Homo sapiens: one gene and its partners. The protein of the gene in region 1 purifies or fractionates together with the protein of each later gene. This does not show direct contact. Each region holds a gene or a part of one and is shown in the gene's direction. Other genes may lie near its edges. The genes, in order: AFG3L2, SPTLC1, APOOL and ZZZ3.

Region 1 (8,109 bases):
CCGGGTCGGCCACGGGAACCTGGCTTGGCCTCCTGCTATCCCAGCGCCCTTGTAGTCAGCTCAACGTCTTCACTGTAAGGGGAGATAGGCTAGTGCCGGGGCTCACGCCTGCGATCCCAGCACTTAGGGAGGCCGAGGCGGGAGAATCGCTTGACTCCAGGAGTTGGAAACCAGCTTGGGTAGGGTAGCAGACCCTCCGATCTACGATTTTTATTTTTATTTTTATTTTTTAAGAGACGGGGTTTTGCTTCTTCGCCCAGGCCGGAGTGCAGCGGCGCAAACACAGCTCACTGCAGCCCCAAACTCAAGCGATCCTCCCGCCTCAGCCTCCGGAGTATCTGGGACTACAGCACCGTGGTTGATTTTTAAAAAGTTTCTGGAGAGGCCAGGCGCGGTAGCTCACGGCTGTAATCCCAGCAGGCGGGTGGATCACGAGGTCAGAAAATCGAGATCATCCTGGCTAACACGGTGAAACCCCATCTCTACTAAAAATACAAAAAATTAGCCGGGCGTGGTGGCGGGCGCCTGTAGTCCCAGCTGCTCGGGAGACTGAGGCAGGGGAATGGCGTGAACCTGGGCGGTGGAGCTGGCAGTGAGCCAAGAGCGGGCCACTGCACTCTAGCCTGGGCGACAGAGCGAGACTCCGTCCCAAAAGATAGGGTTCACCATCTTGCCCAGTTGCCCAGGCTGGCCTGGAACTCCAGGACCCAGGCGATCCTCCCGCCTCCTCCTCTCAAAGTGTTGGAATTACAGACCTGAGCCACAGCTCCTGGCCTCTACAAATTGTTTTTTTTTTTTTTTTCTTACCTGGGCTCAGTGACTTATGACTATAGTCCCAGCAACTCGGGGGGCCAAGGCGGGTTGCTTGGCGCGGGAGGTTGAGGCTCCAGTGAGTTTTGATTGCATTGCTGTACTCCAGCGTGGGTGACGGACTCTGTCTCCTAAAAAAAAAAAGAGCGGGGGTGGGGAGGGGGAATAATAGTGCCTGCATTCATGATTTTTACTCCTTGAGGCTCCCTTGCCAGTCTTAAATCAATTTCTTCGCCATGGTCACGCCACGCTGCCGTGTGGTAGGTCCTTTTTCGGTTTCCTGTATCCATTTCCCTGTTTTACCAAGCTCTGATCCCTTTTCTTTTCTTTTCTTTTTTTTTTTTTTTTGAGACAGGGTCTCGCTCTGTCGCCCAGACTGGAGTGCAGTGGTGTGATTTTGGGTCACTGCAACCTTCGCCTCCAGGGTTCAAGCAATTCTCCTGCCTCAGCCTCCCGAGTAGCTGGGATTACAGGCGCCCGCCACTACGCCTGGCTAAATTTTGTATTTTTAGTAGAGATGGTGTTTCACCTTGTTGGCCAGGCTGGTCTCAAACTCCTGGCCTCAAGCAATCCATTTGGCCTCCCAAAGTGCTAGTATTACAGACGTGAGCCACCTTGCCCGGCCTGACTGCTTTTCTTTTGCTGCTCATGAATATTGGATTCAGACATACAGTTCCAGGTGGGGATCTGCATTGTGAGTTTGCAGTTTTATGTCAGAAGTGTTACCCAAAGGCTTTCCTTTTGAGTGACACTATTGTCCCTGTATCACTCAGATGCTGATGTATAAGGAAGTCCTCTGTGCTGACAGCTGTAGCTGATTGATTTGCGGAGGGTGTGGGGGTTCGCGGTCCTGATACATACTCTTTGGTACTCTCTGAAGATTTGCCTAGTGACACCTGGGCATTACTGTGCTGTGAGGGAGTCTGATAGGACAGGTTTTCCTTTATGTTCCTGCTACCCTTAAAGATCAGAGACAGAAGTACTGCTTTCACGGTGAGGAAGAGATTCTGATGTGTTGAGAGATGAGTTCTCAGGTGTGATGCCCAGAGGAATAAGACTGATGATAAAGCAACTGAAAAGTGCTCCTGTTGTCAAACATAAAGGCTAATTCTCCAAAATGCGGTGCTCTCAACTTAAATTTTGTGAATTAGTATCTCTTACATTATTCTTTGAATGCTAGACATGCAGATCTTGGATTACATATGCAGAGGAGAAGAAGTTTCATTGATGATTTCTTCATAGAACACAACCTCAGTGTTAAATTCAGTCACGGATTATTGCTAGGGATATTCCATGTCAACACAATTTGAAAATAGAGCCTAAAAAGGGCTTTTCTGTCAATATTTATGGAGCGCATACAGTGCCCTGTTCTGTACTAAACTTTATGGTGATATAAAGACTTGCTTTATATGGTACTATGGTTTGAGTTTGGCCTCACCAAAACTCATGTTGAAATTTGTTCCCCATCGTGGTGGTATTGAGAGGTGGGGCCCAGTGGGAGGTGTTTGGGCCATGGGGGTGGAGCTCTCATGAGTGTCTTGGTGCCATTCTAGAGGTAGTGAGTTCTGTGAGCTGTATTGGGACTGGCTTAATTTCAGAGACCTTAGGTTGTTATAAAGTAGAAGTTCCTCCCTCATGGTATGTGGCTGCTTTGCCATTGACCTTCTCCCACCGTGTTTTGATGTAGCACCTTCTCCTGCCATAATTTGACCTAGCATGTGACCCTCACCATAAGCCCAGCACCCTGTTTCTCATACTTCCCCTCTTGCAGAACTGTGAGCTAAATAAACCTTTCTTTGTAAATTACCCAGCTTCAGGCACTCTGTTATAGCGGAACAGAAAGGACTAAGACTAAGACGTGGCAATATAAAGACCCCTTCATATTACCTCTGCACCACTCCTGTTCCCTGTACTCAGAGCTTTTGTTTGGTTACATTGTTATGCCATAGTGTAACTGATTTGTCCCATGATTTTCTTCCCTATGTTTCTGTGCTTCTTAGGGGTGGGAACTGGTTCTGATTCCCCTTCGGACACCCCACTGCTTGACAGCACCTGGCCTGGAGTTGTTGACTTGTCTAGCTTGAATAACATTTCATTTTAATCTACACCCTTAATGGATTTGGCACTGGAAAAAAACTCTTATGTTGCATTCTTATCTGTTATCAGTGGTTATTTCATAGGCCAAGTGTTCCTGTGGTTGGGCAGGGTGTAACACAACATAAGCTCCAAAGTCTCCCAGGCCAGTATTGCACTCAGACAAAAACAGTGTTGGTGTTCCTGTCCTGTTTTGCTGTGTGGAATTCTGTATTTATTTGAAGTTAAATCATCTCATTCTGTTTTATTTGTTTTTTATTGACATTTTAATTTACAAACCATTGTTCATCTTAAATGTACAGTTCATTGGTTTTTAACATATTCATAAAGTTATGCAACCATCATCACTGTCTCCAATTCCAGAACATTTTCAGCACTCCAGAAAGAAGCCCTGCGACCATTAGTAATCATTTCGCATTTCTCTGTAATCATTCCCCCAACTCTAGGCAACTACTAATGTGTCTATCTCTCTATGGATTTGCCTATTCTAGACATTTCGTATAAATGGAATCATAATATGTGACCTTTTGTGTCTGCCTTCTTTCACTTAATATGATGTTTTCAGAGTTCATCCACGTGTCAGTACTTCATTCCTTTGTTTGAGTGACTGGTATTCTCTTGTATGGGTATACCACATTTTATTTATCTGTTCATCATCAGGTGGTGAACGTTTGGCTTGTTCCTACTTTTTGACTGTTATGAATAAGGCTTCTGTGAACATTTGTGTGCATATTTTTCGTGGACATGTGTTTTCAGCTTCCTTGGGTAGGGATGGCATTGCTGGGTCATATGGTGACCCATAGAGTCATGTGGTACCATTTTGGAGCTCTGTCAAACTGTTTTCCAGAGTGGCTACACCATTTTACATTCTCACCAGCACAGTGTACAGGGCTCCAGTTTCTCACATCCTCACCCATACTTGTCTGTCTTTTTGATTATAGTGGATGTGAGGTGGTTTTATTTGGTTTTGTAATTTTTATAACTATTATTTTATTTTTATTTTTTTGAGACGGAGTCTCACTCCATCGCCCAGGCTGGAGTGCAGTGGCGTGATCTCGGCTCACTGCAACTTCTGCTGCCTGGGTTCAAGCAGTACTCCTGCCTCAGCCTCCCGAGTAGCTAGGATTACAGGCACCTGCCACTGTGCCTGGCTAATTTTTGTATTTTTAGTAGAGACGGGGTTTCACCATCTTGGCCAGGCTGGTCTTGAACTCCTGACCTCGTGATGCACCCACCTCGGCCTCCCAATGTACTGGGATTACAGGTGTGAGCCACTGCGCCTGGCCAGGGTTTGTCTTTTGAATGCTACAAATTAAACAAACATCATCAAAGTGAATGTGTTGTCACATAATTATAATTGGATTGCAATTCTACATTATGTCTGATTTTGAAATATTCTTGTTTTCTGGATAATAATGTGTGTCTCCTGGTTCTTTTGCTGGAATCAGTGGCCTAGTGCTAGGTAATCCTAGTCCTCACTAAGGGAGTCATTCTGTGTTACTTCATAACCACCTGTGGAAGAGAGAGACCTTTCATCTACTTTATGACCAGGAAATGAAGCTCTTTTAAGTTTTTTATCTTGATATAACTATGGTTTTATTTTTATGTCTTGTTGCAGCTTTACCGATTTGTTACAACTCAAGCAAGGGCCAGCAGAAATTCTCTTTTGACAGATATAATTGCTGCTTATCAAAGATTCTGTTCTCGACCCCCAAAAGGTAAATGCTTAGGTGTGGCTGTAGTGTTCTACATTCTTAGGTTGGGTCTTTTGTCTCCTTCTGTAACCCATTCCCCTGCCTCCAACTTATGTCTGATTACAGCGATGAAGATATGTCATCTTCAAATGTAACACATTTGTAGATAATGAAATTGATATGCAAAAAGGAGGCTTTTTCCTTTAACACTTCTGGGTTGTGAACTATATTATTTAGACTTTGATGTACTTGTACACAAGAAATGTTATGCTTTTAGCTTGTGCTTTTTTTTTTTTTTTTGGAGACTGAGTTTGGCTCTTGTCGCCCAGGTTGGAGTGCACTAGTGCGATCTTGGCGTACTGCAACCTCCGCCTTCTGGGTTCAAGCGATTCTCCTGCCTCAGCCTCCCGAGTAGCTGGGATTACAGGCACCTGCCACCACACCCAGCCAATTTTTTGTACTTTTAGTAGAGTCGGAGTTTCGCCATGTTGGGCAGGCTGGTCTCGAACTCCTGACCTCAGGTGATCTGCCCACCTCAGCCTCCCAAAGTGCTGGGATTACAGGCATGAGCCATTGCGCCTGGCCAGCTTGTGCTTTTCAGTGATGCATCAGCTGCTTTGAAAACAAAATGAACACAAACCTGATGAATTTTAGTTTGAAGATAAGTATTTTTTTTCTTTTTCTAACAGGATTTGAAAAATACTTTCCTAATGGAAAAAATGGAAAAAAAGCTAGTGAACCTAAAGAAGTTATGGGAGAGAAAAAAGGTACCTTTTGACAATATTATATTTGAATTTTGTGTTTTCCCCTCATGTATAATGGTGGTAGTTTCCACTGAACAAAGAAAAGAGTTATCAGGCCGGGCACAGTGTCTCACGCCTGTAATCCCAGCCTTTTGGGAGGCCTAGGCGGGTGGATCACTTGAGCCCAGGAGGTTGAGACCAGCCTGGGCAATGTGGTGAAACTCTGTCCCTACTAAAAATACAAAAAATTAGTTAGACATGGTGGTGCACACCTGTAGTCCCAGCTACCTGGGAGGCTGAGGTGGGAGAATCACCTGAGCCCAGCAGGGAGCTGTGATTGTGCCACTGCACTCCAGCCTGGGCAACAGAGAGACCCTGTCTCAAAAAAAAAAGAAAAAAAAAAAAAAAAGAAAGTTATAGTAAGTCAGTTGTGAAGCTGTAGGTTGCAAGTACATATAAAATTCTAGAGACCTTATGTTACATTTCACCTTAATTTTCTGTTGATATTTTTCTGTCATTTTGCAAATTGAAGTAATTTAAGGCTACCTTAGAGGTATTGTCTGGTCAAACTAAGCATATTTGGTAGATATCTGGCACATAATTTAAAACATTGAGAAAAATCGTAGAAATCTAATACATGCAATTTATTTGATACATATTGTGTTTAGGGCAGTGTTTTAAAAATTGCTCCTCAGAGCATTACCTCACCTTAGGGATTCGGAGAGACTTTTTTAGAGCACGGTGGCTGGGGGACTGAGTGGGCCTCCTGTGCCCATTTTGACTGACTTCCTTGCTTTTTTTTTTTTTTTTTTTTTTTTGAGACAGAGTCTAGCTCTGTCGTCCAGGCTGGAGTGCAGTGGCATGATCTTGGCTCACTGCAAGCTCCGCCTCTTGGGTTCGCACCATTCTCCTGCCTCAGCCTCCTGAGTAGCTGGGACTAAAGGCGCACGCCTGGCTAATTTTTTTTTTTTTGTATTTTTAGTAGAGACGGGGTTTCGCTGTGTTAGCCAGGATGGTCTCCATCTCCTGACCTTGTGATCCGCCTGCCTCGGCCTCCCAAAGTGCTGGGATTACAGGCGTGAGCCACCATGCCCGGCCCATCCTTGCTTTTTTAGGGAAATGTAAAGAAAACTGTAATTCAGTTTCTTTTTTTTTTTTTTTGAGGAGGGGTCTCTGTCGCCCAGGCTGGAGTGCAGTGGCACGATCTCACTGCAACCTCTGCCTCTTGGGTTCAGGTGATTCTCCTGCCTCAGCCTCCACAGTAGCTGGGATTATAGGCATGCGCCACCATGCCTAGCTAATTTTTAAGAGATGAGGTTTCACCATGTTGGCCAAGCTGGTCTTGAACTCCTGACCTCATGTGATCCACCCGCCTCTGCCTCCCAAAGTGCTAGGATTACAGGCGTGACCACTGCACCTGGCCTCGAGGAGTCCACGTTTTTAAATGTACTTGTCATCTAGTTGGACAGACAAATATATGCCCAAAGAATGCAAAGGAGTAAGAGCCAGGGGACATGGGGAGGGAGAAGCACTGGTGTGGGCTGGTGACAGCCCCGGGGCTCTAGATTGGAGCAGTACCTACAGTTCTCCCAGTGCATGCTAGGTGGTCTTTGAGTCTTGGTGTGGGGGCCGAGTAATGATAACCCATGCAAGCTTTTGGGTTGCTTTTGTGTGGACATTCCTTTCTCCCTGAGTGGTTTGGAGTGTTGCACAGCTTTAGTGGTGTGCTTACTGCGTGTTTTTTAGTCCTGGGCCTCATTCTGGGGGCTGAGGCTTGTGCATATCATACCTGTCTCAGACTCCACTCGAGACAGAGGTGCAGAAGCCCCTCGTATGCAGCATAGCGGAGTGAATGTGTCATGAAGCCACATGTTACATAGCCACTGAGGATGACCGGGTGCCTGTAGCCTCCCATCCTGCTACACTAGAGGGGTTGCTTCATGGTCACTGAAGACATTAGAAGTGTATTCGGTCCGGGTGCGGTGGCTCAACGCCTGTAATCCCAGCACTTTGGGAGGCCGAAACGGGTGCATCAGCTGAGGTCAGGAGTTGAAGACCAGCCTGGCCAACATGATGAAACCCTATCTCTACTAAAAATACAAAAATTAGCCGGGCATGGTGGCGTGCTCCTGTAATCCCAACTACTTGGGAGGCTGAGGCATGAGAATCGCTTGAACCTGGAAGGCAGAGGTTGCAGTGAGCTGAGATCACGCCATTGTACTCCAGCCTGGGAGGCAGAGGTTGCAGTGAGCTGAGATCACGCCATTGTACTCCACTCTGGGAGACAGAGTGAAACTCCGTCTAAAACAACAACAAGGACTGATTTACAGTTTTCCTTACATACATTTCCCTACAAAGCAAAGATGCCAGCTGAATACCAACTGTGGGTGTGTTTTTTTAGCCATTTGTCAAAACCATGGGCTTTCCTGCACAAGAAAGTGTTAACAATGTATACTTTGTGGGAGTGGGAAAGGGAGTACTTACTTTTGTTTTGTTTTGTTGTTGCTGTTGTTTTTGAGATAAGGTCTTCCTGTTGCCCAGGCTGGAGTGCAGTGGTACAATCACAGCTCACTACAGGCTCAAACTCTAGGACTCAAGCGATTCTCCTGCCTCAGCCTCCTGTGTAGCTGGGACCACAGGTGCACACTACGATGCCTGGCTAATTTTTATTTTATTTTTTTATTTTTTATTTTTTATTTTTTTTTGAGACGGAGTTTCACGCTTGTTGCCCAGGCTGGAGTGCAATGGCGTGATCTTGGCTCACCACA
Region 2 (8,109 bases), on another chromosome or scaffold:
TGTTTCCTTTTCTGAGGGAAATGGACCCAGACTGCCCGCAGTGCCTAGTGGGTTTTGCTCCTGGAGCCTCAGGGCAGAGGAAGTCAGCCAGTCTTGAACAGCTGTCTTACCAACCACCATGGGAAGAGTTACAGAAAGCTTTTTCTCCAAAACATGCGCATAAGAGCTGTGCAACCTGTGTTACAGAGTTGAACTATAAAACGTAAAATTGCCTTACATTATCGACATCCCGCTAACCATATAGTCCCAGAGAAAAATGTAAAGCAGAGTGAATATCCCGGGAGGTTGGATGGAAGCACCTCCTCCAAGGCAGACTGACATTCAGCAGTTACATGCACCGAGGAGGTAAATGGAATAAATGGAAAGATAAATGGAAGTGTAATTCAAGCAGATTTAGCAGTACACTACAGCCTTTTTTAAGGCATGAAAATTTTTATGGAGGAAAAAACTTGAACTTCACTGTTGTAGTTTTGTGAATGCTTCCAGCAGTTGTCACTTTGGGAAATACTGTGAGGAAATACTCACAAGCGCCTGAGAGTAGAGAGCAGAATGTACGGGCTTTATTTGGATCCTGATTCAAACAAATGCTGTTAAAAGAAAATTTGGTGAGACAATCAGAGATATCTGAACACTGAATATTTGAATATATTTAACATCAAATTTAAACTTAACATTTAAAAATTGTTAATGTCTTAAGTATGATACTAGTTTTGTGATTATGTTTTGAGAGAGTTTTTATCTTTTAGAAATACACAGTGCAATGTTTATAGATGAAACCCCATGAAGTCTGGGACTCACTACAAAGAAATGATGAGGGTGGTAGGGGATATAGGTGAAGCAAGGTTGTCCTTGAGTTGATAATGTTTGAATCTGGGTGATGGGGATTCTTTGTTCTGTTCTACTTTGTTCAGGCTTGAAATTTTTCATAATGAAAGGTTTAAACATGCTTTTTAAAAAGGGCAGGAGTGCAGAGTTTCTCAAAACTCTGCTGGATCTATGAAACACTAAGGAAAACACTAGCTGTGTTCTGACAATCCATTAACATGGCCATCAGTAAGTAATGATTGAATGCCTACTGTGTGCCCAGAATGGAACTTGGTGCTGAGGGCTGGACCCAAAGATGAGGACCGAAGGAGTTCTGAGTGGTCAGAAAGATGTAGGACTCAAAGCCCATTAGGTCATTTTAGAGCACATTAGGTTCTTCTGCTGTCCAGTTGGTCAAAGATTCCATCGCCATGACGTTTGGATAAATTGACTTATGAAATGCTGAGAGGCAAACTGAATACAAGAATAAAGTGCTCAAAACTTCGATAGACTTTTTATTTATCTCAGTGCATCCCATGAGGAAGGCCAGCTAGACCACTGTTTTAGCGAGGAAATAGTCTTATTTTGTACCTGTGACTACTTTTAATATCGAACAGCTTTGGGTTTTATTTTCTTATAATTTATTTGTCTTTGCTGTGAGTTAATTTGTCATGTATAATGAAATGGTAAAAATGTATAAAATGAGACAGTTTCAGATGGGCCATGAGACTACAGTTCATTCAGCGATAGATGTTATATGGTTTATTTTTTATTTTCATGTAGATAGGTAGTTTGAATCCAGATATTAACAGACAGTTTAATGCTGTTAAATTTTGTCTCTAGGCTTGAAGTTGGCCTTTTTTTTCTTTAAACTGTGGAATAACTGTCACTCCTCCTTTTCCGGCAGATTGATGATATTGATCTTATCAGTGCCAACATGGAGAATGCACTTGCTTCTATTGGAGGTTTCTGCTGTGGCAGGTCTTTTGTAATTGACCATCAGGTGGGTTCTTTTTAAAAACAGGAGCTAAAACTGAAACTAATTTCTCCATTGGTCACCTCAAAATATAATTTTGAAATACGAAATTTTACTTAGTTTATCACACAATTTTTATTTAAATGTCAATTTTTAAAGAATCACTCAAAATATTTCTATTTAGAAATGATCTCACATTTAACAAAAAGTCTTGTTGCTGTTACACGTATAATGTTTATTTATGGCTGGATCTTACCCCCCTCACCACATGTACACACTGTTCAGTAGTTGTTCTAGAGAACTGGTGCCTTTCAAATGTTTACCTAGAAAGGACAGAGAATGTGTATATGTCTTCATTTGTTTCTTCTCAGCGACTTTCCGGCCAGGGATACTGCTTTTCAGCTTCGTTACCTCCCCTGTTAGCTGCTGCAGCAATTGAGGCCCTCAACATCATGGAAGAGAATCCAGGTATAACCCTTTAAAAACCCAAGGAATCAAAGAGATTTCAGGTTACGTTAGTTGTGTTACTGATTTACTTACTGGAGAAATTATTTGCCAGACAAAACTGGTTTGCAGTTACATTATATGGCATTCATAGGAAGAATGGCAGTGAAGAAGCTATTCCTGCCCCAAGGACTTGGGGTCAGAGCTTTTCTCCTGTGCTTGGGGCCAGAGCCAGAGCCAAAGCAAGGCTAGCTCAGATAGTGGGTGGAGATGCTGGGAGGACGAGGGGCTCTCAGCCAGTTCTGGGCCTAAACGTTCCATTGGTGTAAATAAGCCAGTCTTTATTTGGTTAATAGTTTTTTGAGAAATCAGCTGAAGCATGCTGCTTTTTTATCTGTGCAATTTTATAAATATTGTGAGTTTTCACCTTTAGCCTTTGAATCATCAGTTGGTACTGAGGCCAAGCCGGGTTTACCAGCAAAGAACTTACTCAGTGGGAAAAATAAAAAGTCTACTAAGAATTTAAAATGTGGCCTTTGGCTATGACAGTGCCACCTTTGCAAAGCTTAAAACGGAAAGGGAGCAGCAGGCCCTACCCGGTACAGTATTTCTGAATCTTCATCACTGATACTAATTCAGAGAACCAGAAAATGTGTGTCTCTGTGCTCATTCATATGCTTGCTTCTCAGATGGCCTGGCACGCCTACCTTCTGATCAGATACTTTAGTTTTGGGATTTTCCTTGAATAAAAAAGGAAAATATCAAGAAAAGATTGTAAAAATTACTTTACTATAGTTGATTTTTTACCAAATTGTTTAGGATAAAGAAATAAGCAATAAATTTGTACCCTTTGATTCTTAGCCAGATTAGGATCTTGATGAGAACAAGAGGCATTGATTGTTCTTGAAAGCATCATTCCAGGTTTGTTGAAAGTGGGATACTGAGGTGAGAAGGGGCCAGTTAGCACGCACCAGAGACAAAGCTTGGGCCTTCAGGGGAGTATGGGTTCTTGGCTCTGTTAGTATGTAGAAGGATTTGTAGCATTTTAAATTGATGAACTTGATCTGGGTCTTCAAAAATATTTTTAGGTTAGTACTATCATAAGTTTCAAATAGACTCTCAAACGTATTTTTTTCATCTAGGTATTTTTGCAGTGTTGAAGGAAAAGTGCGGACAAATTCATAAAGCTTTACAAGGGTGAGTTTTATATATTTTCAACCAACATAAAGTTTATCTGCACCACACTTAACAACTAATGGAAAGTTTTAAATTTCTAGGCTTGGGTCAGTTTGACCAGATTGCAGCTAAGAAACCAAAAACTTAGTTCACTCACATTGGTTTATTTGTGTAAAACCAGATCATCTGTTTTAAAGAATCGTGACTTTGTTTTTCTGAAAATGAAACAAACTCATTAATAAAATATTACAGCAGTACAGAAGATAGAAAGATGAAAATAACAACCCAACATCTTACCACCAGAAATAACCAGGGTAAACACTGAAGCATCTCTCCATGTCTGCACACACAGGGATGCCATTATATATTATGTAATTAGATGACTGGGTTCATACCATCTGTGTTACTTTTTAATAAATTACTAAGTTTTAACACAAGAAAAAGAAACAAGTGAAATTTTATCAGTGTTTTTTTTTTTTTTTTTTTTTTTTTTTTACTACACAAGAGTCACTTTTTTTTTTTTTATTATACTTTAAGTTTTAGGGTACATATGCACATTGTGAGGTTAGTTACATATGTATACATGTGCCATGCTGGTGTGCTGCACCCACTAACTTGTCATCTAGAAGAGTCACTCTTTAAGATTCCTCTGTAGTTAAAAAAAAAAAAAAATGGAGGTTGGTGATATCTCCAGGCACATTTCTGGTCTTATATAAAGTGATTTCACATTGCCCGAGGTCTTTCTTTTTGCCTTTCCTAAGGTTAAACATGCTTTCTTGGTCATGAAAGTCCTATCTGTGTTCCGGATATGGAAACTGGAGACTTAACTGAAAGAAAAGGACAATTGATAAATGAGTACATCACAGCTGTTCCAGATAAAGAAGGGGCAGAGACATTAAAGTTCTGGGTGTGTCTGTGTGATAGTAACAGCAGTTCTTGCATGATTTATGGTAGAGAGATATATTTGTATTGGTTCCAGTTCCATTGGTTTGTGAAATATTAATATGCCAACACAGCCTAGCATATTGGAGTCACTGGAAATGCATCAGTGCTAGCCTTACATGCCTTTCACTCTATGGTGTTAACCTGCCTTTTTCTAAGTCTAATCTCCACTTACCCCAGCTGTATCACACTTTTTCTTTCCAAAATTCCTAATCCTCTGTCTTCACTCCCCTCACTTTTAGCTAACAGCCTGGCCTTATGCTGTCACTTGGGACTCTGTCATATTTCCTGACAAATCTACACACCTGTGGGTATCTGAACCAGTCTTCCCTCCTGTAGACCAGTAAATGTTGCTCCAACTACCACAGGCCCTTTTTTTAAGGACTGAGTGCCTTTGCTTGTCCCTGCTACTTTGTCATCAGCCTGTCCCCTTTCTTGTGTTATTTGATTAGCAGTCATGTCCACTTTAAATTCCTCTTGCCTGTCACCTGACGTTTCCCTCTGCAACTCCCCATGTCTTTGCTCCTCTCAGTAGCTATCATCTCCACGTCTTCACTTACACTGGCAGCTCTGAGACCTGGCTTCTGCTACTGCCCTTCGCCTGGACTGTTTTTGTGGAGGTCTCCACTGACTGCTGAATCCAGTGGACCATCTTCAGAGCTCATCTTCTTGATGTCCCCATAGTTTTCAGCACAGGTGACCACTCTTTCCTTCTTTGGACTCTGCTACACTGCACGCCTGGATTTCCTTTTACATCTTTGAATGGCTCCATCTCGGTCTCCTCTGAAGGCTTTCTTTCAACACCTTGCTCTTCAAGGCTTTGTCTGTGCTTCTCTTTTCTTCTCATTACCTTCTTGAAGAATTGCCTTCTCCCACACCTGGAGCTCCACATCGTTTCATGACACCTGTATAGAGACAGCTCCCAGCTTCGTATCACCACCCTGGACCACTGCAGCTGCAGGTCTCACACCCAGTTGCCTACTCAGTATCCACAGTTGGAAGACTCCATGGCACCTCACAGTAAACACACATTCATAAGGGTCGCAGGGGCAAACCGTGCTGGTATCTAGATGGTTACAGAGAACAGTAAACAAAATAGCAAAGAGGCCAATGTGACAGGAGGAAAGGAGTGGGAAATCTGGTGGAAGATGAGGGCTGGGTCATGGGCCATCCGCACACAGGGACTTGTGAGCCGTGATGAGGACATTGGCACACAGAGGAAGCCCTGGCATGGTTTTGAGCAAAAAAGTGAAACAGCCTATCTGATACCCTAGCAAAATTACTTTTGCATGGTGTGAAAAAATACATTGAACAGCAGTAAGAACAGAAGCAGGGAGACCAGTTAGGAGATTGACGCAGGTGAAAGGTGATAGTGACTCTGACCATGTTGGGAGCCATGACCTGCGAAGTGTCTGGATTCTGGGTATCTTCTGAAGGGAGAGCACACTGGATCTAGCAGAAGTTCATATGCAGGGTGAGTGAGAAAGAGAAGACTCCAGGTAGAGCTCAGGGGGTTTGGTCAGAGTAAATAGGTAGAGTTGCTAATGAGTGAGAGGGACAGAACTGTGGAGAAATACCTTCTGGGGAAGGTCAGCAGTGGTTATGTTAAGCCCAAAGTGCCCATCAGACATGGAGTGCAGAGCAGCAGCTGGATATACAAGTCTGAAGTGTGAGGGAGAGTACTGAGCTAGAGATAAATGTTTGAGTCTTGGGGTATGGATATTATATGAAGCATTTCAGTGTGAAGAGGTCAGAAACTAGCAAAGACTAGTCTGAGAAAGAGTGGCCAGTGAGGAAGAGGCAGGCTGGAAGAGCCTAGAGTCCTGGAAACCAGGGAAGAAATTGCTTATGTAGGAGGTCAGCCTGTGACATGCCGCTGCTGACAGGCCAGACCAGATAACAGAACACTGATCCTTTGACTTCGTTATGTAGAGGTATTATGACTTGGTGAGTAGTTTCAGGGGAGTGTGGGGTAAAATGCCTGCTTGAAGGAGGTTCCAGACAGGTGGACACGGCCTAGATGACTGTTTTGAGGAGTTTTTCTCTGAAGAGGGACTAAGAAACAAGATGGTGGCTGGAGAAAGAAATTGGTCAAGAGAAGAATATTTCAGTTTAAGATTACTGAGATCAATTTCTGAATAACATCTGGCTAAGTATAAAACATCCTTTCTCCTACTGGTTGACAGTACTGTATCATATACCAGGTTCCCATTTGTACCTAGATCTGTTTTTAAACTGTCTCTTCCATTCCATTGGTATATTTGCTCATTCCTCAGACTCTTTTGATTTTGTCTGTTTTTATCACTGTTTTGGAATACAGGTTTATCACTAGTGTCTGTTTTTATCACTGTTTTGGAATATGGGTTTCTCCAAAATTATTGCTAGAATCTTAATTGGAACTGCATTAAATTTTCTGATGAATGTGGAGGGAAATGTCATCCATGAACATGAGCTCTCTATTTAAATCTCCCTTTGTGTCCTTTAATGGAATTCCTATAAAGCCCTTGTACCTTTATGGAACCTTTAAAGGGAATTTTCAGACATCCTATAGATTTTGTTGCTGTTATGAATGGGGTTGTCTTTTCTGTTATATTTTCTACTTGATTATTGCTGATTCATAAGAATATTATTATTTTCTCTAAACTGACCTTATATCCAGGAGTCTTTCTAAACTCTTAGTATTTCCAGTAATTGTTTCATTGTGTTATGATGATGTGCATGGAAGTCCTGTTATCTGCAATAATGGTGTTCTCTCTTTCCTTCCTAATGCTTTTGCGTCTTAGTTCATTTTCTTATTTTATTGCTTTGGTCTGAGTCCCTAATTTGTATTGAACAGTGGCAATAATAGCAAACATTCCTTCCTTATTCCCAGTATAGAAGCACTTCTTCATTAAGTATAAAACATCATGCTATGGGTTTTTGGTGAGTAGCTTTTATTGAATTATTCCTAGTTTTGTTTTGTTTTGTGGTTTTTTTAAGAGACAGGATTGTGCTATGTTGCCCAGGCTGGAGTGCAGTGGCTATTCACAGATATAGTCAACACACTATAGCCTCAAACTCCTGGACTCAACCAATCCTCCTGCCTTCACCTTCCAACTAGTTGGGACTACAGGCATGTACCTCTGCACCTGGCTAAATGATTCCTAAATTTGAAGGCCTTTTTTTAAAATCATAAATAGACGTTGAACTTTATCCATTTTTTTTACATCTATTAAGGTAAATCATAAATTTGTCTTATGGCTGAATTACATTGAAATATTTTCTGATGTTAAACCATCCTTGCATTCTTGAGAAAACCGTTACTTCATTATAATATCTTTTTCTACACTGTTAGATTTATTTAGCTAATATTTTAATTTGACTTTTTATATCTGTTTATAATTTAAATGGATCTATAACCTTGTACCAACTTTACGTAACATAGGAGTCAGTGTTAGGGTAGCTTCGGTAGATGATTTGGCTATTTTCCACTCTTTCTGCTTCATGGAAGCACTGAGTAAAACAAGGCTTGATCGTTTCTTCAGAAGTTGAGAGTAGGTCTCCCACTTTACAGCCATCTAGGCTTGGGGCCTTTGGTTTGGGAATAGTTGTTGATTATCTCTCATATATCTATATTATTTTAACTTTTTATTTATGTAAATTTGGTTTTGTGTGTTTTCATCATAGTGTGTTTTCTTATTTTTATGCACTGTCTCATTGCACTGTGTTCTTACTCTTCTTCAGCTTCTTACATTTAGCTTTTGGTTTTATTTCGTATTTTCCAATAA
Region 3 (8,109 bases), on another chromosome or scaffold:
ACAGAAGAGATTAAGTGGTGGAGATATAACACATATAACACAAATGACTGTGATTCAGAGTAAGGGGAGTTTCTTACCTGAAGAGAAGTACAAAGTGCTCTGACGCTCAAAAGGAGAGAGCTCACACTTGGTTTGAAGAGAGTAAAAAGAGGCTTCATGGAGAAGGTGCAGAGACAGAAGGAATGGTCAGTGGCAAAAAGCAAACCAGAATAGTGTGTTTTCATTGAGAAGAAGAGAGTTGAACAGTCCTTTGATTTCACCATTAATAAGTTGCTGCTGTTATCATTTATTAAGTGCTTACTCCAGGCCAGGCACTATGCTAAAACACGTTACATGTGTTAATTCACTAATTCTCAAGACAACTTTATGTGGTGGGTATTATTACCATTTTACACATGAAAATTAAGGTTTAGAGAAGTCAGATTATTCAAAACCATGCTAATAAGAGCTGAAGTGAGCTAAAGAGATAAATAGAGTGGTAGAGGAACAACCAAGATTGTATGGGGTTAAGAAAAGAATAAGGGATGGAGAACTGGCATTCATTTAGCACCCACTTTGGCCAGATGATTTACATATATTATTTTAGTTTAATCCTCTTGATGACCCTAAGAAATGGGTAATATATCCATTTTACAGATGGAAAAACGGAGGCTTAGAAAAACTGCTTGCTCCAGGTCATACAACCACTAAGTGGAAGAACTAGGTTCAAACAGTATATTTATCTCCAAAGTCTTTCCACTCCTCCTTGCTTCCTCTGGAAAGGAGTTATACATTACTCTTTAGAGAAGTTTGGTGGTGAAAAGAAGGAACAAAATCTTGGAATGAGGGTAGCAAATTCCAGAAAAGGTGTCTTTTAATTAAAAAAAAAAAAAACTAAAAACAAAACAGGAGACAGAAGACTTGAGCTACTTTGGAGACAAGGGAAAATGTACCAGGAGGTATCTAGAGGGAAAGATAATAGTATTTACAGCTATTGTGTTATTGAATATTGACTACGTGCTAGGAATTTTGCTAAGCACTTTATGTGGATTCTCTCATTTATGTTTCACATTGGCCCTATGAGTAGGAATTTATATTAATCACTTTTTACAGGTAGGGAAACAGAAGCTTAAAAAGGTCAAGTAACTCCAAGGTCACACAGGAGTAAAGTGGTAGAGCTGGATCTGAAATCACATGGTATGAGTCCTGAACCTGGACTCTTAACCATACTTTGTAAGAAAGTGGTAAAATCAAGAGAACAAGTGGAGGGATTAACCTTGCAAAGAGGAGACACACTTTGCTTCAAAGGCCAGAGTTGGTCGAGATAGAAGGTGAAGATACCAAGTGATTTTGAAGAACGGAGGAGGTAGAGGAGGGAGCTCACATTGGAGGTCTGTATCTTCTGGGTGGAAGGTCATCTGCTGAGAGGAAAATATGCCTTTAGGAGTTTAAGAATGGGATAGGCTTGGAAAAGGTGCTTTAGGAAATTCAGTAAAGTATCAGTAGACATTGAATAAAATATTAATAATTGCTGAGAAGTGAGGGCCTGGCTAATGTTGGCTCTAGTAGTGACTTTCTCCAGCAGTGCTCACAGCATAGGAGGGGAAGAGGAGACAGTGGGGTTGCTCCAATGCTGAGTGTTGTCAAAGTGAGAATGATAGAAGATCTAGGGAATTTATCCAAATAGTCATCCACTGTGGATAAGGAGACAAAGAAGAAGATTGAAGTGATGGACTAGGGTACTAGAAGATTTATGGCCATAGTGAGAAAGAAGAACTAGTTCAAAAAGAGTAGGAGAGTTGAAAGAGCATTCTATTTTAATGAGGGAAATTTCAAGCATTTAGGATCTTGAAGGTGAAACGATTTCTAATAATTGCAAAGTAGGGTAACTGTGTTAGAAATGGCTAAGATTTGTGGAGATCATGGTGCTTGAGAAGCAAGGACTGTGCTGATCTCTCGGGTCTTCTGGAATCGGGGAATTCCTGGGGGTCTGGCCTTCAATTAAGTGGATTGGGAGGAATGTATAATAGTAGTGTCAAATAAAAGCCAAGTTTCATTTAATGCCAGAGGTTGAGAGTGAGTTTGAAGACAATTTGGGTATTGGCAGATAATTTGTTTTTAATGCATACTTAAAATCAAAATTTGTCTATGATTTATTGAGGACTTACTGTGTATCAGGTACTGCGCTAAGCTGTTGATACTCATTATTTCATTTAATTCTCACTAAAAGTCTTCTAAGGTAGGTAACTTTACCTGTAAGAACTGAAATAGATCAGTAAGGAAATCGAAACTGTAATGATAGGAGGTTGCACTCAGAGAAAAACTTGCTGAATTTATGATTTTAGCTATTAAGACGTTCTAGGGAATGGTAAATTCAAGATGTCCCCAGGGAATAGGTAGCTATAAGACCCTCTGGGTTTATGTATTTTTTTTTCTTTTTTTCCCCAGCTTTATTGAGGTATAACTGATAAATAAAATGGTTTGATTTTAAGGTGTGCAGTGTGATGATTTGATATACATATATTTTGTGGAATGATTACCAGAATCAAATTAGTTTATATGTATCACTTCACCATGCTGTGTATTATATCCCTTGAACTTACCTGTCATTGAAAGTTTGTGCCCTTTGGCCAACCTCCCAACCTCTCGCCTTTCCTTTACCTTTGCCTGTGGGAACCAGCATTCTATTCTCTAGTTCAGTGAGTTCAACTTCTCAAAATTCCACGTACAAATAAAATCAGGCAGTTTGTCTTTCTCTGTCTGACTTACTTCACTCAGCATAATACCCTTGAGGGTTATCCATGTTGTTGTAAATGACAGGATTTCTTTCTTTTTTTTATGGTTGAATGATAACCCGTTGTGTGTGTGTGTGTGTGTGTGTGTGTGTGTGTGTGTGTATACCACAGTTTCTTCATCCGTTGATCTGTTGGCAGACACTTCGATTAGACACTTAGGTTGTTTTCATGTTTTGGCTGTTGTGAATAATACTGCAGTGAATATGGGAGTGCAGATATCTTTGCAATTGCTGATTTCATTTGCTTTGGTTGTACACCTACTTTGGCTATTCAGAGTCTTTTGTGATTCCATACAAATTTTGCAATTGTTTATTTTTTCTATGTCTGTGAAAAATGCCACTAGAATTGAATCTGTGGATTGCTTTGGGTAGTATGGATATTTTAACAACATTAATTCTTCCAATTCATGAACATAGGATATCTTGCCATTCATTTGTATCTTCAATTTTTTCCATTATGGTTTGATAGTTTTCAATATACAGCTCTTTGACCTCTTGGGTTAAGTTTATTCTTAAGTGTTTTATTCTTTCTGATGCTATTTTAAATGGGATTGCTTTCTTTCTTTCTTTTTTGGGTAGATCATCTTCGATAGTGTATAGAAATGTAACTGCTTTTTTGTATGTTGACTTTGTATGCTGCAGTTCCCTGAGTTTATTTATTAGTTCTAACAGTTTTTTGGTGGCGTATTTAAGATCTTCTATGTATAATATCATGTAATCTGGGAGAAGAGACAATTTTACTTCTTCTTTTCCAATTTGTATGTCTTTCATTTCTTTCTCTTGCCTGATTGCTTTGACTAGAACTTCCAGTGCTATGTTAAATAAAAGTGGCAAGAGACTTGTTCCTGATCTTAGAGGAAAAGCTTTTAGCTTTTCACCATTGGGTATGATATTAGTTGTGGCCTTATCATATATGGCTTTTATTATGTTGAGGTACATATCTTGGATAATTAATTTGTTGAGAGTTTTTATCACAAAAGGATGTTGAATTTTGCCAAATGCTTTTTCCACATTCATTGAAATGATCATGTTGTTTTTGTCTTTCATTCTATTAATGTGGTGTATCATGTTTATTGATTTGGATATGTTGAACCATCCTTGCATCTCTGGGATAAAACTTACTGATCATGGTGAATGAGCCTTTTACTTTTATTTATTTATTTACTTTTTTTTTCAACTTCTATTTTAGGTTCAGGTGTACATGTGAAGATTTGTTACACAGGTAAACTCGTATCATGGGCATTTGTTGTGCAGATTATTTCATCACCCAGCTGTTAAGCTCATTACCCAGTAGTTGTCTTTTCTGCTCCTCTCCTTGCTCCCACCCATTACCCTCAGGTGTCTGTGGTTTCCTTCTTTGTGTTTGTAAGTTCTCATCATTTAAGTTCTCATCATTTAGCTCCCACTTATAAGTAAGAACATGTGGTATTTGGTTTTCTGTTCCTGCGTTTACTTGCTAAGGATAATAGCCTACAGCTCCATCCATGTTCATGCAAAAGACATGATCTCATTTCTTTTTATGGCTGCATAGTATTCCATGGTGTATATGTACCAATTTTTTTAATCCAATCTGTTATTGGTGAACATTTGGGTTGATTCCATATCTTTGCTATTGTGAATAGTGCTGTCAAGCTACCCTTCTAAGTGGCTGTATCATTTTGCATTCCTACTAGCAATGAATGAGACTTCCTGTTTCTCCATGTTCTCCCCAGCATTTACCGTCGTCAATGTTTCAGATTTTCACCCTGCTAGTAGGTATACAGTGGTATATCATTGTTGTTTTAATTTGTAATTCTCCAATGATATGCTGTTAAGCATCTTTTCATACGCTTATTTGTCATCTGTGTATCTTTGATGAAGTATCTGTTCAGATATTTTGCCCATTTAAAAAAAATTTTAATAGATTTTCAGGAACAGGTGGTTTTAGGTTAAATGGGTGAGTTCTTTAGTGGTGATTTCTGAGATTTTGGTGCACCTGTCACCTGAGCAGTTTACACTGTCTCCAGTGTGCAGTATTTTGTCCCTTACCCCCTCCCAGTATTCCCAAGTCCCCAAAGTGCATTATCTTAATTTTATGCCTTTGCATCCTGATAGCTTAGCCCCCACTTATTAGTGAAAACATGATAGTTGGTTTTCAATACCTGAGTTACTTCACTTGGAATAATGTTCTCCAACTTCATCTGGGTTGCTGCAAATGCCATTATTTTCTTCCTTTTTATGTCTGAGTACTATTCCATGTTGTATACATACCACATTTTCTTGATCCACTCATTGGTTGATGGGCATTTGGGTTGGTTACATATTTTCACAATTGTAAATTGTGCTGCTGTAAACATGCATGTGCAAGTGACTTTTTTATATAATGACTTTTTTTCTTTGGGTAAATACCCAGTAGTGGGGTTGCTGGATCAAATAGTAGTTCTACTTTTAGTTCTTTAATGAATCTCCATACTGTTTTCCATAGTGGTTGTACTAGCTTACATTCTCACCAGCAGTGTAAAAGTGTTCCCTTTTCACCACATCCACACCAACATCTATTATTTTTTTATTTTTAATTATGGCCATTCTTGCAGGAGTGAGATGGTATCGTATTGTGGTTTTAATTTCCATTTCCCAGATAATTAGTGATGTTAAGCATTTTTTCATATGTTTGTTGGACATTTGCATATTTTGAGAATTGTCTATTCATGACCTTCACCTACTTTTTGATGCAAATTATTTGTTCTTTTCTTGATTTGTTTGAGTTCCTTGTAGATACTGGATATTAGTCCTTTGTCAGATGCATAGTTTATGAGTATTTTCTCCCACTCTGTTGGTTGTCTGTTTTCTCTGCTATTTTGTTTGCTGTGTAGAAACTTTTTAGTTTAATTAAGTCCCATCTATTTATTTTTGTTTTTGTTGAATTTGCTTTTGGGTTCTTGGTCATGAACTACTCTTTGCCTAAGCCAATGTCTAGAAGAGTTTTTCTGATGTTATCTTCTGGAATTTTTATGGTTTCAGGTCTTAGATTTAAGTCTTTGATCCATGTTGAGTTGATTTTTGTATAAGGTGAGAGATAAGGATCCAGTTTAATTCTTCTACATGTGGCTTGCCAGTTATTCCAACATGATTTGTTGAACAGGGTGTGTGTGCTTTTCCCACTCTGTTTTTATTTGCTTTGCCTAAGATCAATTGGCTGTAAGTATTTGGCTTTATTTCTTGGTTCTCTACTGTGTTCCATTGGTCTACGTGCCTACTTTTATACCAGTACCATGTTTTGGTAACTGTAGCCTAGTTTGTAGTATAGTTTGAAGTTGGGTAATACGATGCCTTCAGATTTGTTCTTTTTGCTTAGTATTACTTCAGCTATGTGGGCTCTTTTTTGGTTCCATATGAATTTAAGGATTGTTTTCTTCTAGTTCTGTGGAGAATGATGATGATATTTTGATGTGAATTGTATTGAATCCGTAGATCACTTTTGGCAGTATGGTCATTTTCACAATATTGATTGTACCCATCCATGAGCATGGGATATGATTCCATTTGTTTGTGTCATCTATAATTTCTTTCAGTAGTGTTTTATAGTTTTCTTGTAGAGATCTTCCACCTCCTGAAGTTTTTTTGTTTGTTTATTTTTTTGTTTCTGTTTTGCAGCTGTCGTAAAAGGGATTGAATTATTGATTTGATTCTCAGCTTGATCGTTGTTGGTGTATAGCAGTCCTACTGATTTGTGTACATTGATTTTGTAACCTGAGACTTTACTGAATCATTTGTTAGATCTAGGAGCTTTTTGGATGAGTTCTTAGACTTTTCTAGGTATACTATCATATCATTGGTGAACAGCAGTGGTTTGACTTCCTCTTTTCTGATTTGGGTGCCCTTTATTTCTTTCTCTTGTCTGATTTCTTTGGCTAGGACTTCCAGTATCATGTTGAATAGAAGTGGTGACAGTGGTTATCCTTGTGTTGTTTCAGGTCTCATTGGAATGCTTTCAGTTTTTCCCCATTTAGTATGGTATTGGCTGTGGGTTTGTCATAAATGGCTTTTATTACCTTGAGATCTGTCCCTTCTATGCCAGTTTTGCAGAAGGTTTTTATCATGAAGGGAGCCAGGAGTTTTTCAAATGCTTTTTCTGCTTCTGTTGAGGTGATCTTATGATCTTATGATTTTTAGTTTTAATTCCGTTTATGTGATGTATCACGTTTATTGACCTGTGTATGTTAAACCATCCCTGCCTCCCTGGTATGAAACCCACTTGCTCATCTTTTTGATATGCTGTTTGGATTCAGTTAGCTAGTATTTTGTTGAGGATTTTTGCATCTGTGTTCATCAGGGATATTGGTCTGTAGTTTTCTTTTTTTTGTATGTCCTTTCCTGGTTTTGGTATTTGGGTAATACTGGCTTCATAGAATGATCTAGGGAGGACTCCCTCTTTCTTTATTTTTTGTAATAGTTTCAGTAGGATTGGTACCAATTCTTCTTTGAGTGTCTGATACAGCTTAGCTGTGAATCCATCTGGTCCTGGAATCTGTTTTTGTTGGCAATTTTTAAATTACTGTTTCGATTTCGCTATTGGTCTGTTCAGTTTCTGTTTCTTCCTTATTTAATCTAGGAGGATTGTGTATTTCTGGGAATGTATCCATCTATGCTAGGTTTTCTAGTTTGTGTGCACAAAGGTGTTCTTAGTAGCCTTCAATGATCTTTTGCATTTCTATGGTATCAGTTGTAATATCTCCCTTTTCATTTCTACGTGAGCTGATTTGGATATTCTCTCTTCTTTAATCTCTCTAATGGTCAATCAGTTTTCTTAATCGTTTCAAATAAACAGATCCTTGTTTTATTTATCTCTTGTATTTTTTTGTTTCAATTTTATTTGGTCCTGCTCTGATTTTGTTATTTCTTTTCTTCTAGCTTTAGGTTTAGTTTGACCTTGTTTCTCCAGTTCCTAGAGGTGTGATATTTGATTGTCAATATTTGGGCTCTTTCACACTTCTTGATGTAGGCATTTAATACCATGAACTTTCCTCTTAGCACTACTTTTGCTGTATCCCAGAGGTTTTGATAAGTTGTGTTACTGTTATTCAGGTCAAAGACTTTTTAAATTTCCATCTTAATTTCATTGTTGGCCCAAAGATCATTCATTAGTAGATTATTTAATTTACATGTATTTGTATAGTTTTGAGGGTTCCCTTTGGAGTTATTTCAGTTTTATTCTACAGTGGTCTGAAAAGATGCTTAATATGATTTTGATTTTCTTAAATTTATTCAGAAGTGTTTTGTGTCCTATCATGTGGTCTGTCTTGGAGAATGTTCCATGTCCTGATGAAAAGAATGTATATTCTGCAGTTTTGGGGTAA
Region 4 (8,109 bases), on another chromosome or scaffold:
TTGCCCAGTTTGGTCTCGAATTCCTGGGCTCAAGTGATCCACCTACCTCGGTTTCCCAAAGTCCTGGGATTACAGGCCTGAGCCACCATGACCAGCTTATAGGTGATATTTTATAGTAAAGAATATATGTATAAAAAAAAGGTTTTTAGTACTACTAATAATAGGTTCATTTCATCCAAAATAGTCTCTCTTTGAGAAGTTTGTACTGCAAGGCAAATTTTGCTCCCATTCAGATTGGTGTGGAAAGAAAAGGTTAAGGAAGTCTTATTATTGGAATAATTTAAGAGGTTTTTATGCCCTTAATTGGGATTGCATTTTAAAAAGTAAAGACTAACAGATTCTTTTGTGTGTTTATAAAGTATTTCTATTGTCAGTATTATTTTTGAACCATAAATTATGAGTATAGTTGAATTTACATTAAAGATAATATGTATTAGATTTTGTAGGCATTTTAGTTATTAAATTTAACTTAGCCTTATGCTTTTTTTGTGCATTTACATACATATTTAATATTTAAAAATAAGTAATCTTAACCCTTTAGAGTGCCAGATTTGGATACATGAAACAAGTAAGTTGCTTTTCATGTATTTCAGTTTGTGTTCTTTTCTTTTTATTTTTTTTTGAGACAGAGTCTCGCTCTGTTGCCCAGGCTAGAGTGCAGTGGCGCGATCTCGGCTCACTGCAACCTTTGCCTCCTGGGTTCAAGCGATTCTCCTGCCTCAGCCTCCCGAGTAGCTGGGATTACAGGCATGTGCCACCATGCCCTACTAGTTTTTGTATTTTTAGTAGAGACGGGGTTTCACCATGTTGGCCAGGCTGGTCACGAACTCCTGACCTCAAGTAATCCGTCTGCCTTGGCCTCCCAAAGTACCGGGATTACAGGCATGAGCCACTGCCCCTGGCCAGTTTGTGTTCTTTTAAAACATCATTTGAAGTTTAACTTAAATGTTTTACAATTAAAAGTGGAAAATTATGGGACACTCAGTGTTTGTTACCCATGAAAGAAACAGATTGTAATCTTCATGATAATATATTAGCAAACGATAATTAAATGTCAGCTGTTCTTTTAATGAATCCCCCAAACAATGAAAGTTTACTACTGTAAGAAATGTGTTTCTAAGTTCTGATTTGTGTCTTGTACTTATTGTTCACTTGGTTGCTATGAAATTCTGTAGAACATATAACCATGCTTTAATTCCAGGGCTAGTTTTGTGATTCTTATAAGATTTAAAAAAATTGTTAATTAAAAATTTAAAAGTATGCCATACTTTGAGACAACACTAAACTCAGGCAACTTAAATATTTTACAGGGTACTTTCTCACTTAATTCACTTGTCAGCAGGCAGGAACAGGGAGATTATTTCCTGTAGTGTTTCTTTTTTATATGTGGTAGCATGTTGCTGTGTCTTCTATAATTCTTCCAAACTTTCCACTGTTAGATAGTTCTAGTTGAAGCAAGGAGAAATTGTGTTTGATTTTTAGGGGTAGGAGTCAGAATGGCATTTGGAGGTTTACATGAGAAGGGAGACTGTTGATGACCAAAGGCAGGAGGAAGGGACTGTGAAACTTTGCACTATTGCCACCACTGGCCTCTTTCTCTAACTAATCATCCTGCATCTCATTCAAAGTTAGGAAATAAAATGACAGGGTACCTTGTGAAAACTAAACAGAAGAGGAGTCGGGGAATAGAGACTTCAAATATTAACAGCTCCTTTATTCTGCTTGATGGGAGAGCCTCTGGAAAATATCACCAAATCACTAGTTTACCCAAATGGATCAATCAAGGCATTTTTCTATATCCCTTACATTTCTGTCATATAAACCTCAAGCATCCACACCAGAATACCTGCTCATCTCCCAAACCACACATTAAAACTGGCACTGGCATATGCTATACACAGGAGTTCAAAGAAGGAAAGGGTGGGATTACAGGAGTAGTCTTGATTTCTTAAATGTAAGTATTTGCTTCAGAGGCTTCTTCCCCATTTTCTTTTCTGGTCTTTGGAACACTCCCTTTCACTTGCTAATTTATGGCTTTATTTCTAGAGACTAGGAAGGCTTGGGTTTGCTTTGTTTTGTTCTTAGCCAATGCAAGCTAGCATTGTGATTTTTGTCTATTTAGTTATGAAAAATTATACTGCAATAAAAAATTTTTGGATGCCAGATTATTATTAAGGGATTTGATCTGAAACTCATTTTAGCAAAAGTAAATTAAAAAGAGGAGAGCCTGCCTTTCTGTATACCGGGAACATTTTGAAAGAACACGAGAAATGATTGGAATAGTTTTTTGAAAGATAGCTGCTATATAAGTTCAAGATTATTATTTTATTTATTTTATTTATTTATTTATTTATTTTTTTGAGACAGTCTCACTCTGTCGCCCAAGCTGGAGTGCAGTGGCATGATCTCGGCTCACTGCAAACTCTGCCTCCCGGGTTCAAGTAATTTTCCTGCCTCAGCCTCCTGAGTATCTGGGATTACAGGCGTGTGCCACCACACCTGGCTAATTTTTGTATTTTTAGTAGAGACAGCGTTTCACCATGTTGGTCAGGCTGGTCTTGAACTCCTGACCTCATGATCCTCCCGCCTCAGCCTCCCAAAGTGCTAAGATTACAGGTGTGAGCCACTGCGCCCGGCCGAAGATTATTATTTTAATGACCAAAATGAAATCACATCTTTAGGATAGATCTCTTCTGGGTGTTTTATGCCTGAGAGGCAGATACACAGTGAGGCAGTTATGGTCTCTAGAGCCCTGCCTTGCTACTTACTAGAGTTGTGACCTTGGATAGAATATTCAGAGTGTGCTTTAATCTCATTCGTGAAGTAGGGATGATAGTAGCACCTATCTGAGTTGTTGTGAGACTTAAGTGAGTTAATGTATGTAAGGCATATAGAAAGACTCATGGAACATATTAAGTACTGTATGCTTGTTAGCTATAATTTATATCATTATTGGAAACGTTAAAGAATTTTTATCACATAATTTAATATTGGCAGTTATATAGATAGTTATAGACTGTAATGTCCAAGTATACTTGGATTAAAAAGTTATAGCTTTATACTTTCGTTCTGGGTATATTAACTATTACCTTTTTCTCATTATTTTGTTTACATTTTTGAAGGTTTCCCAATGAGTGGATCATGATGACCGTATTGTAGGGACTTGCCATAGTATGGCTGCTTCCCGATCTACTCGTGTTACAAGATCAACAGTGGGGTTAAACGGCTTGGATGAATCTTTTTGTGGTAGAACTTTAAGGAATCGTAGCATTGCGCATCCTGAAGAAATCTCTTCTAATTCTCAAGTACGATCAAGATCACCAAAGAAGAGACCAGAGCCTGTGCCAATTCAGAAAGGAAATAATAATGGGAGAACCACTGATTTAAAACAGCAGAGTACCCGAGAATCATGGGTAAGCCCTAGGAAAAGAGGACTTTCTTCTTCAGAAAAGGATAACATAGAAAGGCAGGCTATAGAAAATTGTGAGAGAAGGCAAACAGAACCTGTTTCACCAGTTTTAAAAAGAATTAAGCGTTGTCTTAGATCTGAAGCACCAAACAGTTCAGAAGAAGATTCTCCTATAAAATCAGACAAGGAGTCAGTAGAACAGAGGAGTACAGTAGTGGACAATGATGCAGATTTTCAAGGGACTAAACGAGCTTGTCGATGTCTTATACTGGATGATTGTGAGAAAAGGGAAATTAAAAAGGTGAATGTCAGTGAGGAAGGGCCACTTAATTCTGCAGTAGTTGAAGAAATCACAGGCTATTTGGCTGTCAATGGTGTTGATGACAGTGATTCAGCTGTTATAAACTGTGATGACTGTCAGCCTGATGGGAACACTAAACAAAATAGCATTGGTTCCTATGTGTTACAGGAAAAATCAGTAGCTGAAAATGGGGATACGGATACCCAAACTTCAATGTTCCTTGATAGTAGGAAGGAGGACAGTTATATAGACCATAAGGTGCCTTGCACAGATTCACAAGTGCAGGTCAAGTTGGAGGACCACAAAATAGTAACTGCCTGCTTGCCTGTGGAACATGTTAATCAGCTGACTACTGAGCCAGCTACAGGGCCCTTTTCTGAAACTCAGTCATCTTTAAGGGATTCTGAGGAGGAAGTAGATGTGGTGGGAGATAGCAGTGCCTCAAAAGAGCAGTGTAAAGAAAACACCAATAACGAACTGGACACAAGTCTTGAGAGTATGCCAGCCTCCGGAGAACCTGAACCATCTCCTGTTCTAGACTGTGTTTCAGCTCAAATGATGTCTTTATCAGAACCTCAAGAACATCGTTATACTCTGAGAACCTCACCACGAAGGGCAGCCCCTACCAGAGGTAGTCCCACTAAAAACAGTTCTCCTTACAGAGAAAATGGACAATTTGAGGAGAATAATCTTAGTCCTAATGAAACAAATGCAACTGTTAGTGATAATGTAAGTCAATCTCCTACAAATCCTGGTGAAATTTCTCAAAATGAAAAAGGGATATGTTGTGACTCTCAAAATAATGGAAGTGAAGGAGTAAGTAAACCACCCTCAGAGGCAAGACTCAATATTGGACATTTGCCATCTGCCAAAGAGAGTGCCAGTCAGCACATTACAGAAGAGGAAGATGATGATCCTGATGTTTATTACTTTGAATCAGATCATGTGGCACTGAAACACAACAAAGAGTATGTGTAAATATGGTAACCATGAATTCTGCTTTGTTTATTATTCCCCAAGTTTTTCAGTATCTATTCGTAGTGTTTTTATTACAGCCAAAATTAATGTTTTCACTAAAATTTTAGGTTTAATATGATTTTCTCAACTCTTAGAAAAACTCCAAAAAAAGACTTAAACTCAACTTTACACGTGTGTTCTATGACAACATGGTCTTTCCAGTTCTGATATTTCATGTCTCAATTAGAAAAGACATGGTTGGTAGTGTTTTTGTTTTTTTAATATGTTTTATATCATTTTTAGTTAATTTATACAATGGAAACACATTGAGTTACCACAGTATGCTTTGATTTATAGTTCTAGATAGCATAGGACAATTAATGAGTGCTTAGACATCATCCAGATATGTGAAGTCTGGCAGGCTTGACATCTACTTTTATCTTACTTACATTTAATTCCCAATTAAAATTTTTTATTAAAAAATGTGCTTTATGCATCATCTTTGACTTTGACTTAGAGAAGTGGATATTACTATTAACACTATGACAGTATATTGTAATTAGCATATTAGCAAGGGTTAGTCTACTGGATAGTTTACATAAAACATTTGACATAGCTTTTCCTGATACTAAATATAAAGGAAGACTATCTTAAAATATTATCAGCTCTCAACCTTTGCTAAGTCACTGTTGTAAATAAAGAATTCTGTATCCAAATTTTTCACAATATTTCTTGCCTAGATTTCCTATAAAGTATTCAGGGCCATAACACAAAAGATTTGGAGCTTACTATGTCTAGATAATCCTGAAAAGAACTAGAACACACAGTGCTCATCATAAATATCATGATTAGCAACAATAAAAGACAGACTTATGTAATAAGTTAATTACCTTTATTGCTACAGGGTAGGCTTTTGAATTAATATCACAACCAGATTATATAGACTGTACATAAATACTTTGATTTGAGGAACATTTCTAGTGGTTTTGTTGTGACAATTGCCAGACCCTGGTATGTGTCAGATCAAAGTATCAAATCCTGGTTGTGGGACATAATATTTTTTTTGCCATGCATTGTAGATAGTGTAGATTTGTATATGGTAATACAGTGGTCTTTCAGCATAGGCCCCTTCTGAAAAGTTTTCTTCTGCTTTCTTTTGAAATACTATCTTAATATTGTATTTGATAGTTCATGTCATCTGAGCATTTTACAATTTTGTGAAAATGTTAGGAGTCTCGAGTATTTGGAATATTTGAAGTCCAGTTTTAGATAGCAAAACAACTCATAAATGAAGTTTTTTTTGTATTAGAAATAAGTTGAGTTCTGCTGTTCATATATACTGTCAGTTTTTTTGTTTGTTTGTTTGTTTTTGTTTTTCGTTTTTTGAGACAGCATCGCACTTGTTGCCCAGGCTTGAGTACACAGGTGCAATCATGGCTCACTGCAACCTTGACTTCCCTGGGCTCAAGCAATCCTCCCATCTCAGCCTCCCAAGTAGCTGGGACTACAGGCACATGCCACCACTCCTGGCTAATATTTTTTTGTATTTTGTAGAGGCAGGTTTTCACCATGGTGCCCAGGCTCGTCTTAATCTCCTGGGCTCGATTGATCCTCCCACCTCAGCCTCCCAGAGTATTGAGTATAGGCATGAGCCACTGCACCTGGCCTAGTATCAGTTTTTAAAAGTAGACCTGTTTATCTGCAGTGCAGGGAAGGAGAGCGTATGTCTTAGGAAAATACCAAAAACTAAAGAAATGTGAATTTTTATAAAATGATATATGTTAGTTCTGTTCTTTGCTTTTTATTGTTTTAGTCTTGACTCGTTATTGATTGTGGAAATTTTTTTTCTAGTAATTCACTACAGTATTACTTTTTGTAAGAGATTGCCCGATAATAATTCTGAAGGATGATGTTCACATAAAACAGTTACCTAAAGATACAGTCATAACATTGATATTCCACATTCATAACCCTTTGAGGATGAGAACAATACAGCTTAATTGGTGCTTTTATACATTTTATATAGTGTGCTTTTATATGTTTATTTTTCATGTGTTCCTTAAGATATAGAGACTCCTTTGGAATTTGGATGCTAGTTGCTTTGTTAGAACAGTGTTTTCAAATTAATGCCTCATTGGGTGACATTGGGGAAAAAATTACTGATTCTTGCCTTTTTGCCTTGCTCCAGATCTTTTGAAGGATAGCACTTTTTTTGTTTGTTTGTTTTTTGTTTTGGAGACAGAGTCTCACTCTGCCACCCGGGCTGGAGTGCAGTGGCACAGTCGTGGCTCACTGCAGCTTTGACCTACCTCCCAGGCTTAGGTTATCCTCCCACCTCAGCCTCCCAAGTTGCTGCTGGGACTACAGGTGTACGCCATCACACCTGTCTAATTTTTTGTAATTTTAATTGAGACAGGGGTTCGCCATGTTGTCCAGGCTGATCTTGAACTCCTGGGTTCGAGCGATCTGCCCGCCTTGGCCTCCCAAAGTGCTGGGATTACAGGCATGAACCACCTAACCTGGCTAGGATCGCACTTTTGAGACTTTTCTCTTTTTTCTTTTTTTTCAAAGGAAGCAAATCAGAAATGAGATGGAGTATCATGATTAGCATCTCAGAGCTAATTTAAGGAAAATTGGGAGAGGGTGTTTGATCATGTCAGATCTAATCTCTTTCAGTAAAGTCTCTTTCCTCCCCCATACCTTCATTGTCTAGAGCCAAGAGTTGGTTGGATATAATGTTGGCTCTTTTTAATCCAAGTTGCCATCGCTAAAAGTAGCATCATGACACCTGTCTGGTGCTTTCAAGTCTCAAGTAAATTTCTGGCAGTTTGAAAATGATGTTAAAAAGCACTTGGGTTTTAAAAAAAGGCACTTGAAGGAGATGGTTTATTCTCCTCCTGTACACACATATGTACATACCTTGTCAAATGTTACTTCTCTTCCTTATTCTCCCTGTGCTAGAAACGTTCTCCAGGTAATTGCTTTTTGAAACCGAGGTTGAGCATTGCCCAGCCTAAATATGAATATCTCTACCAGTAGGGAATGAATACTTCTTGATAGCCAGTTTTAAAAGTAAGTTGTTAATAGAAAATACTGAGCATGGCATAATTCTTTGTCTAGAGCCAGGAGGACATAACTCTGTGTTATTCTAGTTGAAACTTTTCCTCTAACCTAACAGTGATCAACAGCCTTCTATCCTAGTGTTCAGCTTACAGTTTATCTGTCTTGTGTGCAAAGATATCCCATATAAGGTCATCCGATCACTTGTAAATGTTTGCGAAAGTATTGTGTAGAATCCTAGTCTTAGATGTGATTTATAGTAAATTAGGCATTAGACCAGGGAAACAAATCTGTGGATGTTCTGGGTACTAGCTTGATGCCTCTCTAGATGCCATCCCTCTTCTCTAGCGCATAAATCCACAGTGTGCTTTTATATATTTAT

Evidence for each region.
Region 2: the proteins of AFG3L2 (region 1) and SPTLC1 purify together in Homo sapiens (affinity purification with mass spectrometry, with the first as the bait; one large-scale study listed by BioGRID). This does not show direct contact.
Region 3: the proteins of AFG3L2 (region 1) and APOOL purify together in Homo sapiens (affinity purification with mass spectrometry; one large-scale study listed by BioGRID and IntAct). This does not show direct contact.
Region 4: the proteins of AFG3L2 (region 1) and ZZZ3 purify together in Homo sapiens (affinity purification with mass spectrometry; one large-scale study listed by BioGRID and IntAct). This does not show direct contact.

Annotation. Positions count from the first base shown.
Region 1 is NC_000018.10:12,368,105-12,376,213, reverse strand, and holds part of AFG3L2 (mitochondrial inner membrane m-AAA protease component AFG3L2), read left to right. Parts: intron 1-4,522; coding exon 4,523-4,622; intron 4,623-5,287; coding exon 5,288-5,365; intron 5,366-8,109. UniProt on the Homo sapiens protein: Catalytic component of the m-AAA protease, a protease that plays a key role in proteostasis of inner mitochondrial membrane proteins, and which is essential for axonal and neuron development.
Region 2 is NC_000009.12:92,041,311-92,049,419, reverse strand, and holds part of SPTLC1 (serine palmitoyltransferase 1), read left to right. Parts: intron 1-1,711; coding exon 1,712-1,807; intron 1,808-2,151; coding exon 2,152-2,248; intron 2,249-3,366; coding exon 3,367-3,421; intron 3,422-8,109. UniProt on the Homo sapiens protein: Component of the serine palmitoyltransferase multisubunit enzyme (SPT) that catalyzes the initial and rate-limiting step in sphingolipid biosynthesis by condensing L-serine and activated acyl-CoA (most commonly palmitoyl-CoA) to form long-chain bases.
Region 3 is NC_000023.11:85,005,699-85,013,807, forward strand, and holds part of APOOL (MICOS complex subunit MIC27 precursor), read left to right. Parts: intron 1-8,109. UniProt on the Homo sapiens protein: Component of the MICOS complex, a large protein complex of the mitochondrial inner membrane that plays crucial roles in the maintenance of crista junctions, inner membrane architecture, and formation of contact sites to the outer membrane.
Region 4 is NC_000001.11:77,628,419-77,636,527, reverse strand, and holds part of ZZZ3 (ZZ-type zinc finger-containing protein 3), read left to right. Parts: intron 1-3,122; 5' UTR 3,123-3,173; coding exon 3,174-4,678; exon of another isoform or gene 4,679-4,693; intron 4,694-8,109.